Regions from separate parts of the Homo sapiens genome. Here all the other regions are linked to region 2. Evidence: fine-mapped expression QTL. A gene starts in region 2. Each other region holds a variant in brackets. All regions are shown on one strand. Distances are from middle to middle.

Region 1 (5,224 bases), 34 kb before region 2:
CTAGTGATAATACTAAAAATCACAATCAGGAAAGTTAAGTTACTAAATGCCAGGACGTGCCCAGAATAGTAGTAGTTTGGGCACTTTGAGTTTAGATTGTGACCTACTAAAAAACAAATTAAATTCATTAATATTTCCATTTAGAAGAATTCTGAAAAGTAATTTTACAGCAAGATCACTTTATTGACCATAAAGCTTCAAAAATGCTAAAAGACTAATAGACTAGGTTAACTACGTAAGATTTTTCAGGGGAAAAGGCCATACAAAAGTTAAAAAAAAAATGAGGGAAGAGACAGAAACTGTCCTTGACTAACATTTTAAATGTAAGTTTATTTACTAGCATTATTTTCAAAAATTATACTATCAGGATAGCTTTCACTTCCTACTAATCTCATGAAGTTGTCTCACTAAAAATTATGCTTTCATGGCAAATTAATGAACTTGATTGATTTTCTACAAGTGTATGTTTTGACTTATTTCTTTAAATTTTTTGACATGGATTTGTTAGCTTTTAATGTTATTGCAAAGACTTCCTTATATTCTTCTAATTCCGTAGTAAGCTCTTCATAAGCGGTTTTCATTTTGGAGAATTGACATTCCACGTCTTTCAGTCAGAGTTCTCTTTTATTCATCAAAGCCATATTATTCTCTTTTAACTGCTGTGTTTTTCATATTCTGCTTGTTTCTAAAACAAATAAAAAATCATACTTTTAAAACAATTATAACCTAATTAGTCTCTATTTGTTGCCTTTCATTTTGAGTCAGTGATTCAGAAAGCAATTTTAAATATGTGTTTTAAAAAGGGGCTGAAGTTTAAAACATCTATTAGCAATTTCATCTAAATTGATAACAGAATTCAGAATTAAATATGAATTATAAAAATTTGAAATCATTCTTGTTAGTGTTCATGTAATCTAATCATTTAAAAATAATAGAATCCATTGGAAATGTTAAAAACTGAACAATGTAGCGTAAGACCAATTCAAAAGTACCATATAATTTTAAATCAGAGTTTTCTTTTTCTAATAGTCTTATGCTAACTGGTTTTAATAACCAAATGACTGTATAGTGAAACTCACTACTCTGAAAGATCAACTTAGTTATAATCATGATGGAAATTTAAATATTTAAAATAAGAAACAGGTGCCACCTTTTTTTCTAAAACTCTACAAAGCAAATTCCTATAAGAGAGGCAGACAAAACACTGTATGTCTATATTATAATTTGCAGTGAAATAAATGAAAGCACATTACAGATAAACCTACCTGATTAAAAAAACTAACCTGTAAATTGATTTCTTCTAATTTTTCTATTTCCTGTCCTGCTCTTTCTTCCAACTGCAATTTACATTCTTCTACGTCACCAAATTCTACCATATTTTTTTCATGTGTCTTAAGATTCACTACTTCTTGTTCCAAAATTTTGTTAACCTCCTCAAGTTTTTTACATTTCTGTTGTACTTCTTTCATAGATAATAACTCCTGTTGAATAACTTGATTCTTTTTAGCCAAATATAGACATTTTTGAAGATATAGTTTCCAGCTCTGCTGTAAGTTCATCAAACTGCATAAATAAAATAGTACAGCTTGATAATGAAGTAGGCTGACACTATTTTATTATAAAACCAGTAACAAATTTTGAAATACATTTACTTGCAATAAAATGTTATCTATAATGCGGTAGATTCTTCCAACGTGAACGCTTAAATTACTCAGAAAATCAAGAACAAAGTTAAAGCCACCAAGAGTCAAAAAGATATATTAGTTACTTTTATCATCTTTGCCACAGAACTTTTGCACTTGATCTTACACTTTTATTTTTCTGATTGCTTATTTTTGTTCCTCCCTAAATGACTCTAAGTTATTTCTTAGTAGAAAGTTTCTAATCTCCTTCCTTCATGATCATGCCCAATAATTTCTAAAGAAGTTTTAGGGACATCATATTGAGTTATTTAGGCCAAGGTCAATAAATGGCTCTCAGAATAAGACTCTGAAAATAATAATCTAGGCCAGGTGTGGTGGCTCATGCCTGCAATCCCAGCACTTTGGGAGGCTGCAGCAGAACGATCACTTGAGGCCAGGAGTTTGTGACCAGCCAGAGCAACATAGTGAGACCCCCATCTTTACAAAAAGTTAAAAGCAATTAGTTAAAAACAATTACAATTAGTTAAAAACAATGACAAAAAGTTAAAAACAATTAGCCAGACATGGTGGCGCATTCCTGTAGTTTCAGCTGGTTGGGAGACTGAGGCAGGAGGATGGCTTGAACCCAGAGTTCAAGGCTGCAGTGAGCCATGACCACACCACTGCACTCCTTCCTGACTGACAGAGAAAGATCATATCTCAAAAAAAGACAAATTAATGCGTCCTGTAAATAAGGAGTATGATATGGTTTGGCTGTATCCCAACTCAAATCCCATTATGAATTGTATCTCCCATAATTCCCACATGTTGTGGGAGGGACCTGGTGGGACATAATTGAATCCAGGGAGTGGTTTCCCCCGTACTGGGCTTGTGGTAGTGAATATATCTCACAAGATCTGATGATTTTACAAGGGGTTTCCCCTTTCACTTGGCACTCCTTTCTCTCTTGTCCGCCACCATGTAAGACATGCCTTTCCCCTTCTGCCATGACTCTGAGGCCTCCCCAGCCATGTGGAACTGTGAGTTCATTAAACCTCTTTTTCTTTATCAATTACCCAGTCTCAGGTATGTCTTTATCAGCAGCATGAAAATGGACTAACACAGTAAGTTGGTACCAGTAGGGTGGTGTGCTGCCGTAAAGATACCCAAAAATGTGGAACTGGGTAATAGGCAGCAGTTGAGACAGTTTGGAGGGCTCAGAAGAAGACAGAAAAATGTGGGAAAGTTTGGAACTTCCTAGGGACTTGTTGAATGCCTTTGACCAAACTGCTGATAATGATATGGACAATAAAATTCAGGCTGAGATGGTCTCAGATAGAGATGAGGAACTC[A/G]TTGGGAACTACTGTAAAAGTGATTCTTGCTATGTTTTAGCAAAGAGAGTGGTGGCATTTCGCCCCTGCCCTAGAGATATGTAGAACTTTGAACTTGAGGGAGATGACTTAGGGTATTTAGTGGAAGAAATTTCTAAGCAGCAAAGCATTCAAGAGGTGACTTGGGTGCTGTTAAAAGCATTCAGTTTTAAAAGGGAAACAGAACATAAAAGTTCAGAAAATTTGCACCCCGATAATGTGATAGAAAAGATTTTTTTCTGAGGAGAAAGTCAAGCCTGCTGCAGAAATATTCATACATAACAAGGGGCCAAATATTAATCACCAAGACAATGGGAAAAATGTCTCCAGGGCATGTAAGAGAACTTTGGGCAGCCCCTTCCCATCACAGCCCTGAAGGCCTGGAAGGAAAAAATGGTTTTGTAGGTATCCAGGCCCCCACTGCTGTGTGCAGCCCAAGGACTTGGTGCCCTGCATCCCAGCCACTCTAGATATGGTTAACAGGGGCCAAGGTACAGTTCAGGCTGTGGCTTCAGAGGTTACAAGCCCCAAGGCTTGGCAGCCTCCACATGGTGGTGAGCCTGTGGTTGCACAGAAGTTAAGAATTGAGGTTTGGGAACCTTCACCTAGATTTCGGAGGATGTATAAAAATGCCTGGATGTCCAGGCAAAAGTTTGCTGCAGAGGCAGGGCCCTCATGGAGAACCTCAGCTAAGGCAGTGTGGAAGGGAACTGTGAGGTTTAAGCCCCCACACTGAGTCCCCACCTGGGGCACTGCCTAGTGGAGCTGTGAGAAGAGGGCCACCATCCTCCAGACCCCAAAATGCTAGATCCACCAACAGCTTACACCATGCACCTGGAAAAGCCACAGACACTCAACACCAGCCCATAAAAGCAGCCAGGAGGGAGGCTGTACACTGCAAAGCCACAGGGGCAGAGCTGCCCAAGACCATGAGAATCCACCTCTTGCATCAGCATAACCTGGATGTGAGACATGGAGTCAAAGACAATCATTTTGGAGCTTTAAGATTTGCCTGTTAAGCTGGATTTTGGACTTGCATGGGGCCTTTAGTCCTTTCATTTTGGCCAATTTCTCCCATTTGGAATGAATGTATTCATCCAACGCCTGTACCCCCAATGTATTTAGGAAGTAACAAACTTGCCTTTGATTTTACAGGCTCACAGGCAGAAGGGACTTGCCTTGTCTCAGATGAGTCCACAAACTGTGGACTTTTGAGTTAATGCTGAAATGAGTTAAGATTTTGGGGGACTGTTGGGAATGCATGATTGGTTTTGAAATGTGGGGATATGAGATTTGGAAGAGGATGGGGCAGAATGATATGGTTTGGCTTTGTCCCCACCCAAATCTTATCTTGAATTGTAGCTCCCATAATTCCCACATGTTGTGGGAGGAACCCCGTGGGAGATAATTGAATCATGGGGGTGGCTTTCCCCATACTATTCTTGTGTCAGTAAGTTTCATGAAATCTGATGAGTTTATAAGGGGTTTTCCCTTTCACTTGGCGCTCCTTTCTCTCTTGTCTGCTGCCACATAAGACATGCCTTTCACCTTCTGCCATGATTGTGAGGCCTCCCCAGCCACATGGAACTGTGAGTTCATTAAACCTTCTCTTCTTTATCAGTTACCCAGTCTCAGGTATGACTTTATCAGCAGTATGAAAATGGACTAATACAGATTATGAGGATTCTAATGCCATTAGCTTTTCCCTAAACTTCAAATGTTTTATGCTAATTTGAATTGCATTTCAAGAAGTAATGATTCTTTGGGTCAAGGCCATAGAAAACAGAACCCAGAAATAAATCCACGTATTTACAGGCAACTGATTTTGGACAAAGGTGCCAATAACATACGTTGGGGAAAGGACACCCTCTTCAATAAATGGCACTGGAAAAACTGGATAGCCAATGGAGAAGAATAAAACCAGACACCATATACCAAAATAAACTCACAATGGATTAAGGTCTTAAATGTAAGGCCCCAAACTATCAAACTACTAGAAGAAAACATAGGAGAATGCCTCAGGACATTAGTCTGCACCAAGATTTTATGTGTAAGACATCAAAAGCAAAGGCAAAAAGCAAATAATAGACCACTAATATCCAGAATGTACAAGGAACTCAATGTGACAGTAAAAAAAAAAAGGGTAAAAGATCTAAATAGACTTTTAAAAAAGACATACAAATGATGATGAAATATATAAAAAAGATCAATGTCACTAATTGTCAGGGAAAT
Region 2 (5,224 bases):
CTCCACCCAGTGCTTGAACATCCCTTCCCCCTCATCACTCCGGGGAAGGATCCTGCTCAACACCCAACTACTCATTCAAACCTGGAACCCGAAACTTTAATGAAGGTTGCTCTACTGAGATTTTTCTCCCCACCGAACATGTCTGTGACCCACAAAGAAGCCCATGAAAGAAAGTGCCCAGAGAAACCAGAGCTGTGGAAGGCTGGCTCGACGGTGCCCCTCACTGCCCCTGAGAAAACAGACCCATTTCCTCTCTGCCCACCTCTTTCCCTGACATGTCCCCAGCAGCAGTCCTGTATTCCCAGTTCCTCTCAAGATGTTCTGAATAGTCTCTGGGTATCCTCTCATTGCCTTCAACTCAAGATATCTAAAACCAAAACTCATTGTCTTCCCACTCAAAACGTCCTCCCCTTTCTGCTGCCAACCCCAGTCAGTATTGTCTGCAGGCTTCCAGGCTTGGATCCTTGACTCACGGCCACCCAAGCTTCCTTCCCCCGTGTGCGATTAGTCAGTAAGTCTTAGTAGTGATGAGGGCTTCCTGCACCGTGACTGTCCGGCATGCTTTTTCCTCTCCCATTTCCTCAGCCACCAGCAATTCCAGGCCCCTCTTTACTTCGTATGTATTCTAGCGAGATCAACTGGCAAGACAAAGCTCAGACGTCACCTCCAGAAGGTTTTCATGGCTTGTGATAATCTGGCTTCACCTGTATTCTACTTCATGAGACAACTGACTATCTCGTGGCCTCTTCCCTGTGGCCTCCATCTCTCTTTGCAGCTCCAGTCCCTGGCACATGCTTGGCACACAGCTCACTGCAGCTGCTCAATGAGTTTTGTGGACTGGATGTTTGCTTGTGGGAAGTGGAAGCAGGGACCAGATGGATGGGCAGAAGGATTGTCCTATTCAAATATGCACTGGTGGTCCTGTCTTGTGTTTGGGCACCAGTTGAATCCAAGAGCTCTCAACCTGTGGAGTGTCGGATGAAATCTATGGAATCCCTCCTCAGAAAAGCAAATGAACCCACACAATGATGGCGCAGTTTCATTGTCATCAGCCTCCTGAGGCGTATCCACAATCACCAGGTCAGAAAACCCTGCTCCTTCCTTGCATTCAATTGGGCACATCACTATCAAATTAATTTTTCTGAAACACGACAAAATCTCATCAGAAATATACCACACTTTGTTGTCCCAAATGCTTGCCACCAGAAGTGTTTTGTATTTCAGATTTTTTGGATTTTGGAATCTTTGCATTATACTTACCAGTTTGGCATCCCTAATCCAAAACTCTGAAGTCAGATTAGCGATATTAAACCTGTACTAAGGAGAGCAATTCTGAATTTTTTGGCTTGGCAGCCACGGTTATTTTTGTGCCCCTCTAAATATACCTACTACCTACTATCCCCAGTGTGTAATCAGGCCATTGATGCCAGAGAGAGGTGTGAGTAGAATGATCACCAGTAGTGCCTGCCCTGAGAACGTGGCCACTGGTGCCCAGAGCAGAGTTGTCTGGGGACTGGCTGGAGGCCCATAGAGAGGCCCACACAAGAGCTCACCTGTGTTGACCAGCTCTCTTGCGTGCTCCAATTCCTATGCTGTTGCCTTGACTCAGCATGTGGTTCTCAGTGGGGTGATTCTTCCCTGCAGGTGACAAGTACTAATGTCTGCACACATTTACAACTAGGGAGGGAGTGCCACTGGCATTGAGTGGGTGGAGGCCAGGGATGCTGCTGAGCTTCCTGCATTGTACAGGACAGCCCCCACCACAAAGAACTTTCTGGCCCCAAGTGTGCATAGAAAAGATCCTGGTCTGCAGAGCCCTGTCCACCCATGGTCAATCCTGAAACTCTCCTTTGAGTCCCCCAGACTTTCCTGGGCCCTCCGGTCTTGCAGGATCTTCTCTTTCTTTCACACCTGTCCTTCCTGGGCAACATTTCTCCCCGACAAACCAGCGCCTGACCCTTGAGCAGGTCTCACCCAATCCTGCGCTTGTTTTAACCATATCCTTAGTTAGGTTCTAAGGTCATTGCGGGCAGGGAGGTTCATTTTCCTATAGGCCTGAGCACAAGGTCAGCGTGTGATAAATATGTGTTGACCCTCATAGATCCCTGAAGCACAGAATGAAAAATAAAATTGCTTAAATTTACTGATTTCAGGATATGGGAACAAAGGAATTGTGTTTAAATGTAAAAAAGAAGTTCTAGAATTTCCACAGAATTTACATTCTTCTTGTTGTAAGGAATATGCCTGGTAATGGAACTCAAATATCAGCTTGGATCGCCCTGGCCTTTGAAATTTGAGGTAAAATTAGGCTTAAGCCGTATCCAGCGCACAACAGAAACCTCAGTGTCTCCCACCCAGGGACTGTCTCGGAGGCTGTGTGTTCAGATGTCACTTCTGCCTCCCGGCATCTGCTCCTGAGTTTTCACTCTTCAGCCTCCCCTCCCAAGGCCTCCTTCCTACCCTGGCACTGGGCTTCTTGCCCCGTCCCCCTAGAATCCGTGGCACAGGGGCTTTATCTGTGTGGAGTCTCTACAGACGGTTAGAAACACAGAGTCAGCTAGAAATTAAGCAGTAGGCAGCTGTGATGTTTTTTGACAGCCTCATTTCTAAAACCCCTTCAGCAACCCCAGTCAAGGAGCTTCTCCCTCTAGACTCCAGCCTCCTGCTGAGTCACCTGCACCGTCTCTGCCTTCCTCCCCTTCCTCACATCCTCCCTGGCCCCATCTTCCAATTCCTCTGAACTTCTGCAGAGCAGCCAGCTCTTCCTCCAGCTTCAACTTCCCCACCCCAAGCAGGTGGGGCATCCTGACCCTGAGCAAAAGCAGTTCTCTCCCTAAGAAACACCGGTGACTTTTGTTCATGGCACTCCATGGATGCAAAGCTCTGAGTTCTGTTGAACAGGGACTCACCTACGAGTGGTGGTGCTATCAGCTGAGACGGGAAGCAGCACTCAGTAGAAGAAGAAAAGGCCTGGACTGGTGTGGGCATGCACTGGCTCGTGAGAAGCAGGGAAGGTCGCTCTTATGGGTCCCGTTTCTAAGTGACGTTCACGGCCTGGCTGTGTGTTGTCCAAGTGTTTTTCTTTCTTACCAAACCTTGGAGGTCTGGGAGCACCATATATGTCACACATGTGGGCAGGACTGGCCGTCGGGGCCGATGGGAGCTGCCTGGCGCACAAGTCCCTGGGGATGCCCATAAGTGCCTCACGTTGGCACTGAAGAAATGCAGACAGTGTGCCGCTTTGGGGAAGGCTTGTTGTTGCTGACTTTACACACACACACATATATATATACATACACACACACATATATACACATATATATGTATGTATACAGAGTGCTATAAAGTTATTCTTATTTTGTGAGTGATACAACCTTATTATTTAAAAATTAGGAAGAAAGTTAAAAAGAGGGTAAAACTCATATCTCTTCATGAGAAATGATCACTGTGACTATTTCAGCATACTTCCTCTGGCTCTGAGAAGAATCTTTAGGAAATAAGGAGCTTTTCATCTCCAGGGAGATGCCAGGGTCAGTTTCACCCCAAGGCAAAACCCTTCTCATTTTATGGGGCCAGATGCTGAAGATCAGAAACAGTTCGATCCTGCCCCGAGAAGGTGTCCGCCTCATCCTTGGAGTTAATGTGGCCACTTCCTAGGCAACTCAGAGGCTTTATGGGTCCTTTCGCCTCTTAAAATTAATTGAGTTATTCAGTAAATACAGGTTAAGCATCCCTAATCCAAAAATACAAAATGCTCCAAAACTGTTTTAGTACCAAAACGACCCTTAAAGAAGGCACTCACTGGAGCGTTTTGGATGTTGGATATCAGATTAGGGATGCTCAGCCAGAATGAATTCTGCAAATATTCCAAAATCAAAAAAAATTTGAAATCTGAAACACTTCTGGTTCCAAGTATTTCAAATAAGGGACACTCAACCTGCACTTAGTGAGTGATGCCAGGGAGTGGTACCAGTCACTGTTCTAGGCACTGAGGGTGCGTTGGAGACAAAGTGACAGCAACGTCCATGCTTCTTCCTCGCAGAGGACAGAGCCATGAGGAGGGAGAGTCTCTTCACTTCTCTGGGCCTTAGTTTCCTCCCCAGGCAAATAAACTGAGGAGGCTGTACCCAAATAAACATCGTCAGAGCTTAGGGGAATCATGTGGAGTGCCTGTTTGTCTTAAACACAAGCATTTCTTTAAGGTTCCTTAAAAAAAAAAAAGAAAAGAAAAGCTAAAAATGTTAATGACCTCTGCATTTTATTTTCTGGTATGTCCAGGTTTTTTGTTTTTGTTTTTAGACAGAGTTTTGTTCTGTCGCTCAGGCTGGACAGATCACGCAGTGGCATGATTTTGGCTCACTGCAACCTCCACCTCCCGGATTAAGTGATTCTCCTGCCTCAGCCTCCTGAGTACCTGAGATTACAGGCACCCACCATCACAGTCAGCTAATTTTTGTATTTTCAGTAGAGATGGGGTTTCACCATGTTGCCCAGGCTGGTCTTGAACTCCTGACCTCAAATGATCTACCCGCCTCAGCATCCCAAAGTGCTGGGATTACAGGCATGAGCCACTGCTCCTGGCCATATGTCCAGGTATTTTTAAATATAAAAACAAAATTTGGCCAGGTGCAGTGGCTCATGCTTGTAATCTCAGCACTTTGTGAGGCTAAGGTAGGCAGATCACCTGAGGCCAGGAGTTCGAGACCAGCCTGGGCAACATGGTGAAACCCCGTCTCTACTGAAAATACAAAAATTAGCCAGGCCTGATGGCCCATGCTTTTAATCCCAGCTACTCGGGAGGCTGAGGCAGGAGAATCACTTGAACCCAGTAGGCGGAGGTTGCAGTGAGCCGAGATCACACCACTGCACTCCAGCCTGGGCAACAGAACAAGACTTCATCTCAAAAAACAAACAAACAAACAAACAAAATAAACCCCACAAAATTTAAAATTCTTTGTAGAGTAGAAATGATGCTCTGGGAAAATACCCCCTGGGCAGGTGGTGGCTGCACATCCACTCTGGGAAAGACTCTTCAGCTCGAAGATGGAGACCCTCTTTTCCTGCTCTCACACAACATGGGGATAACGTTGACGCGTTCTTGGTAGGCAGTGCAGTAGGCAACATATCCAGACGCTGGGTGCCAGTGGTAGGCAGGAGAAACCACCGAGTGGGAGCAGATTTTCAGAAAAGGGAAACTAGAAAAAAACTTCCCAGCTGTGTCTCA
Region 3 (5,224 bases), 63 kb before region 2:
ATTACAGGCATGAGCCACCACGCCCTGCTAGGAGTTCACGCTTTAGTTGGGGAAAATATACAATAAGCAAGCCAATTTTTAAAAAGAGAACTGCAATTAGAGTTAAATGCTACAAAGACAATCTCACAGGAAGATGGGATGTAGAATGATAAGGCTCTCAGAATAGTAAGAGAAACTATTGCTTCTTACGATGTTTGTCTTTCTTTGTATCAGTGCTCAGCTGAGTCTGCAGTGCTTCAGAGGCAGCTTTCATTTTATAAAAATCTATGATTTCTCCTTCCAGTTGTTTTTTCTCTTCCTCAAGCTTCCTTATCTCCTCCTGTTGAATCATTTTAAGATGCTCGAATTTGTCCTGCAGCTGTGAAACCAATGTGCAGTTGTGACACCAAAGCAGTGTGGCTGAACACCCAAAAGAATATGCTTTTTTCTGATTATCAAACAAACCCAAATCATCACAGTAGAGCACGATCTTAATAACAATCTCAAAAACTCAGGAGTAAACACTCAGATATGGAATTTTTCTTTTCTTTCTTTTTTCCTTTTATAAGATGGAGTCTCACTCTGTTGCCCAGGCTGGAGTGCACTGGTGCAATCTCAGCTCGCTGCAACCTCCATCTCCCAGTTCAAGTGATTCTCCTGCCTCAGCCTCTTGAGTAGCTGGGACTACAGGCATGCACCACCACTACAGGTGTGTGCCACCACACCTGGCTAATTTTTGTATTTTTAGTAGAGATGCGGTTTTGCCATGTTGGCCAGGCTGGTCTCGAACTCCTGACCTCAGGTGATCCTCCCGCTTTGGCCTCCCAAAGACTTTTTTTTTTTTTTTAATATACAGACAAGTTCTCAGTATGTTGCCCAGGCTGGTCTCAAACTCCTGAGCTCAAGTGATCCTCCCACCTCAGCTTCCCAAAGTGCTGGGACTGACTGGATGCAGTGGCTCATGCTTGTAAACTCAGCACTTTGGGAGGCCAAGGTGGGAGGATCGCTTGAGCCCAGGAGTTCAAGACCAGACTGGGTGATATAACACAATAGTAAACTTCAACAGGAGAGAGAATCTGTAAACTTGAATATAGATCTTCTGAAATTATCCAGTCAGAGGACAAAGAAAAAAAGAATAAAAAAGAGAAAAGAAGGCTGGGCGTGGTGGCTCAAGCCTGTAATCCCAACACTTTGGGAGGCCGAGGCAGGCAGATTAAGAGGTCAGAAGTTCAAGACCAGCCTGGCCAACATGACAAAACCCCATCTCTACTAAAAATACAAAAATTAGCCGGGTGTGGTGGCACACACCTGTAGTCCCAGCTACTTGGGAGGCTGAGGCAGGAGAATCACTTGAACCCAGGAGGCGGAGGTTGGAGTGCAATGTGAGCCGAGACCACACATTGCACTCCAGCCTGGGTGACAGAGCATGACTCTGTCTCAAAAAAAAAAAAAAAAAAAAAAAGAGACAGAGAAAAGAAAGCCAACAAGACACCATTAGGCAAACCATTGTCAGGTTATGGGAGTTTGAGAAGGAAAGTAGAGAAAGGAGAAGAAAGCTTATTTAAAGAATGGCTGAAAACTGCCTAAATCATGGGAAAGATTTAGACATCTAAATCCATGAAGCTTAAAGATTCCTAAAGAGGTTCAAACCAAATAGATACTCACCAAGTCACAATATAATCAAATAGTCAAAAGTTAAAGAAACTTTGCAGGTCAGGACAGAATCGAATAATACATTCAAAGTGCTGAAAGAAAAAAACTGCCAGCAACTAATACTATGTCTGACAAAGCTGTCCTTCAGAAAGAAAAAAGAAATAACGTGTTTCCTCGACAAACAAAGCTGAGGGCATTCAGGACCACTAGGTCTACCTTAAAAAAATGCTTAACGGAGTTTTTCAAGTAAAAAGGAATGAAGTTGGGAGCGGTGGCTCATGCCTGTAATCCCATTTTGGGAGGCTGAGGTGGGTGGATCACCTGAGGTCGGGAGGTCAAGACCAGCCTGGCCAACATGGCAAAACCCCACCTCCAGTAAAAATACAAAAAATTAGCCAGGTATGAAGGCCACTGAGATCGTGCCACTGCACTCCAGCCTGGGTGACAAGAGTCAAACTACATTTCAAAAACAAAAAACAAAACAAACAAAAAAAACAAAACTTGAGGCCTGGCCTTCTGCTCCTCTCCAACCTCCCCTTCTCTGGGCCCAAGCCACCTTGGCTGAGGAGGGGGCGAGGAGGTGTGAGCCCCTGCCAGGAACCCCCTGCCCGGACCAAGTACTCGGCCCCCAGGCCTGCGTTCAGTGAGGCCTCCCGTGGCGTCAGCATGTTCGTGTGGAGGAATGTGGAAGGTCACTCTGCGGCTGTGTTCCCCTGGTACTCCATCCCCTTCCTGACCCCTCCCTGCAGCCACACGAGGCCCAGCAACCTGCCAGTCACTCAGTGGCCTGCAACCAGAGAAAACAACCTGCCAAGTTGCCAGCTGTTGCTCATGAGCGTCCACCAGGTGGGACAGGGAGTGTTGACCCTGGGCGGCCCCCTGGAGCCACCTGCCCTGAAAGCCCAGGGCCCGCAACCCCACACACTTTGGGGGTGGTGGAACCTGGTAAAAGCTCACCTCCCACCATGGAGGAGGAGCCCTGGGCCCCTCAGGGGAGTCCCTGCTGGACAGTGAGACAGAGAATGACCATGATGATGCTTTCCTCTCCATCATGTCTCCTGACACCCAGTTGCCTCTACCACTCAGATGATGTCAGGCCCAGTCCCTCAGTGCCCTGCGCAAGGAACAGGACTCATCTTCTGAGAAGGATGGACGCAGCCCCAACAAATGGGACAAGGACCACATC[T/C]GGTGGCCCATGAGTGGCGCTCATGATCTTCAGCAAGCGGCACCAGGCCCTGGCGGGGCGCACCAGGGTCACCCCAACCAGGATAACCGGACCGTCAGCCAGATGCTGAGCGAGCGGTGGTACACCCTGGGGCCCAGTGAGATGCAGAAATACGACCTGGCCTTCCAGGTGAAGGTGGCCCACTTGCAACAAGGACCGAAAGAAGTCCAGCTCAGAGGCCAAGCCCACAAGCCAGGGGCTAGCAGCAGTGTAACAAGGGCTCGTGGGAGCGGAGCATATCAGAGACGGGCACTGCCACTGCCCCTGGGGCGTCCTCTGAACTCCTGTCAGTTGCAGCCCAAACACTCCAGAGCTCGGATGCCAAGGAGCAGCTTCTGTGGGGCAGAACGGCTGCACACAGTCAGGGAACCTGGCTCAGCCTGGCCCAAGCCTTCTCCCACAGCGGGGTACACAGCCTGGACGGCAGGGAAATAGACCGTCAGGCACTACGGGAACTGACACAGGTGGTGTCTGGCACTGCATCATACTCTGGCCCAAAGCCTTCTACTCAGCATGGAGCTCCAGGCCACTTTGCAGCCCCTGGTGAGGGAGGTGACCCGTGGGCAGCCCTGCTGCTGCCCACCTGAGCTGCTCATTCCCAGCACATGGCCAGTGAGGACACAGCGAGTGACGAGGAGCACACGGTCATCCATGAGGAGGAGGGGGTGATGATGTCATTGCTGATGATGGCTTTAGCACCACCGACACCGATCTCAAGTTCAAGGAGTGGGTGACCGACTGAGAGTGGGGACAGCTCTGGGGAGGAGCCAGAGGGCAACAAGGGCTTTGGTGGGAAGGTATTTGCACCTGTCATTCCTTCCTCCTTTACTCCTGCCGCCCCTTGCTGGATCCTGAGCCCCCAGCGTCCCCCGATCCACCTGCAGCTTTTGGCAGTCTATGGTCACACCCTGTCCTCCTCCTACACATACTCGGATGCTTCCTCCTCAACCTTGGCGCCCACCTCCTTCTTACTGGGCCCAGGAGCCTTCAAAGCCCAGGAGTCTGGTCAACGCAGCAGAGCGGGCCCCCTACGGCCCCAACCCCTGGGGATGGGGGCCCAGGGACGCCTTCCAAGGTGGCCTGTTTCCTCCCAATGGATCCTGCCACCTTCTGGTGCAAGAGACCTGAAAGTGTGGGCGACCTGGAGCTACCAGGCTCCTCAGTCATCAGGGTCCCTCCCAACACTAAGGCTTTCCTAGGCAGGAGCTGGGCTGAGCCACCCGGGGAGCAGAGCCTGAAGAGAAACTGACTGGGCTTTAGGGGTCGGGGCAGAGGGAACCCCACGGACATGGATCCCACACTGGAGGACCCCACCACGCCCAAATGCAAGATGAGAAGATGTTCCAGCTGCAGTCCAAAGCCCAACACCCCCAAGTGTGCCATGTGTGATGGGGACAGCTTCCCCTTTGCCTGTACAGGTGGAGAAGCCGAGGACAGGCTCAGGGAACCGGAGACCGAGAAGGAGCTGTCCTCTTCACTGCACGTGCCCTGGACCAGTGCCGGCCCTGATCATGCAGCTCTTCCAGGCCCACTGCTTCTTCCTGTCCACTAGGCCACAGCCGCCCTCCAGGCCCACTATGCACACATCTTCCCCTCCAAGGTTTGTTCTGCCCCTGCCCTGACTCCCAGCCCTGTGGGGGTCCTGACCGCACCTCACCTGGCTCAGACTCTTGACGCTGCCCTGGCTGCCCCACCACTGCCTCTGCCCGAGAGTCACGTGAGGCTGAGAGTAGGGGCAGGGGCAGCAGTGGTGCCAGTTGGGGGGCGGTCCAGTGGGAGGAGCCTCAGCCTCGCGGGCTGCTCCGTGGGACTGATGACTGCATGATCTTCTGGGCACCTCACGGATCTTCAACTGCAGGTGAAACGGATGCTGGTGGTGGGTGCAGGGCCGCTGGGAGCTGCTGCATGGTTCCCAGAGGCTGGACTGGGGCAGGTGCCAACTGAAGCTGCTGGGTCAGCATGGGCAGGATGTTCTGCACACAAACCTTGGAGAAGAAGATGTGTGCATAGCGGGTCCACTGCTGCTGCCCCTGCCCTGACTCCCAGCCCTGCCTGACCCCACCTCAACCTGCTCAGGCTCTGGCACAAACCTGGCTGCCCTGCCACTGCCTCTGCCCCAGAGTTGGGGCCTTGACAGCCTGGTTGGAAGGGGACACCCCAGCCCTGCCTCAACACCTGGGGGTCTCCATAACTACCACAGGCAGGTGGGCAACCCCAAAGATCCCAGGACTCACAGTACCCCCTGAGAACATGGACAGTATGTGGGGGTAGCAATGGAGGGCAGGATGGTTATCTTCTCCCAGGTGAAGCCATTTAATCCTTTCAGTTTGGGACGGAGTAAGGCCTTCCTCTTTTTTTTTTTTTTTT

Which allele goes with the higher level. Positions count from the first base shown, and alleles are read on the strand shown. Sizes are in standard deviations (SD) of each study's normalised expression. Not every link is listed here.
As copies of C replace T in region 3, the expression in prefrontal cortex of the gene that starts at base 2,151 in region 2 goes up (large effect, 0.75 SD a copy in BrainSeq).

Evidence for each region. PIP is the estimated chance that this variant, and not a neighbour inherited with it, causes the effect. A credible set is the group of variants that fine-mapping cannot tell apart.
Region 1: its variant is the best candidate, but not a certain one, in a credible set for the expression of LINC03066 in testis (GTEx, PIP 0.66).
Region 3: its variant is the best candidate, but not a certain one, in a credible set for the expression of LINC03066 in prefrontal cortex (BrainSeq, PIP 0.85).

Annotation. Positions count from the first base shown.
Region 1 is chr6:169,069-174,292 of GRCh38, forward strand. It overlaps the pseudogene ANKRD18FP. Among named protein-coding and RNA genes, the nearest start is that of LIRIL2R, 8.7 kb to the right of the region's middle. The variant A/G (reference allele first, on the strand shown) is at 2,975.
Region 2 is chr6:203,334-208,557 of GRCh38, forward strand. LINC03066 (long intergenic non-protein coding RNA 3066) reads right to left here and starts at 2,151. Exons shown (of 8, transcript NR_126020.1): 1 at 1,554-2,151.
Region 3 is chr6:140,022-145,245 of GRCh38, forward strand. It overlaps the pseudogene SEPTIN14P6 and the pseudogene CICP18. Among named protein-coding and RNA genes, the nearest start is that of LIRIL2R, 38 kb to the right of the region's middle. The variant T/C (reference allele first, on the strand shown) is at 2,819.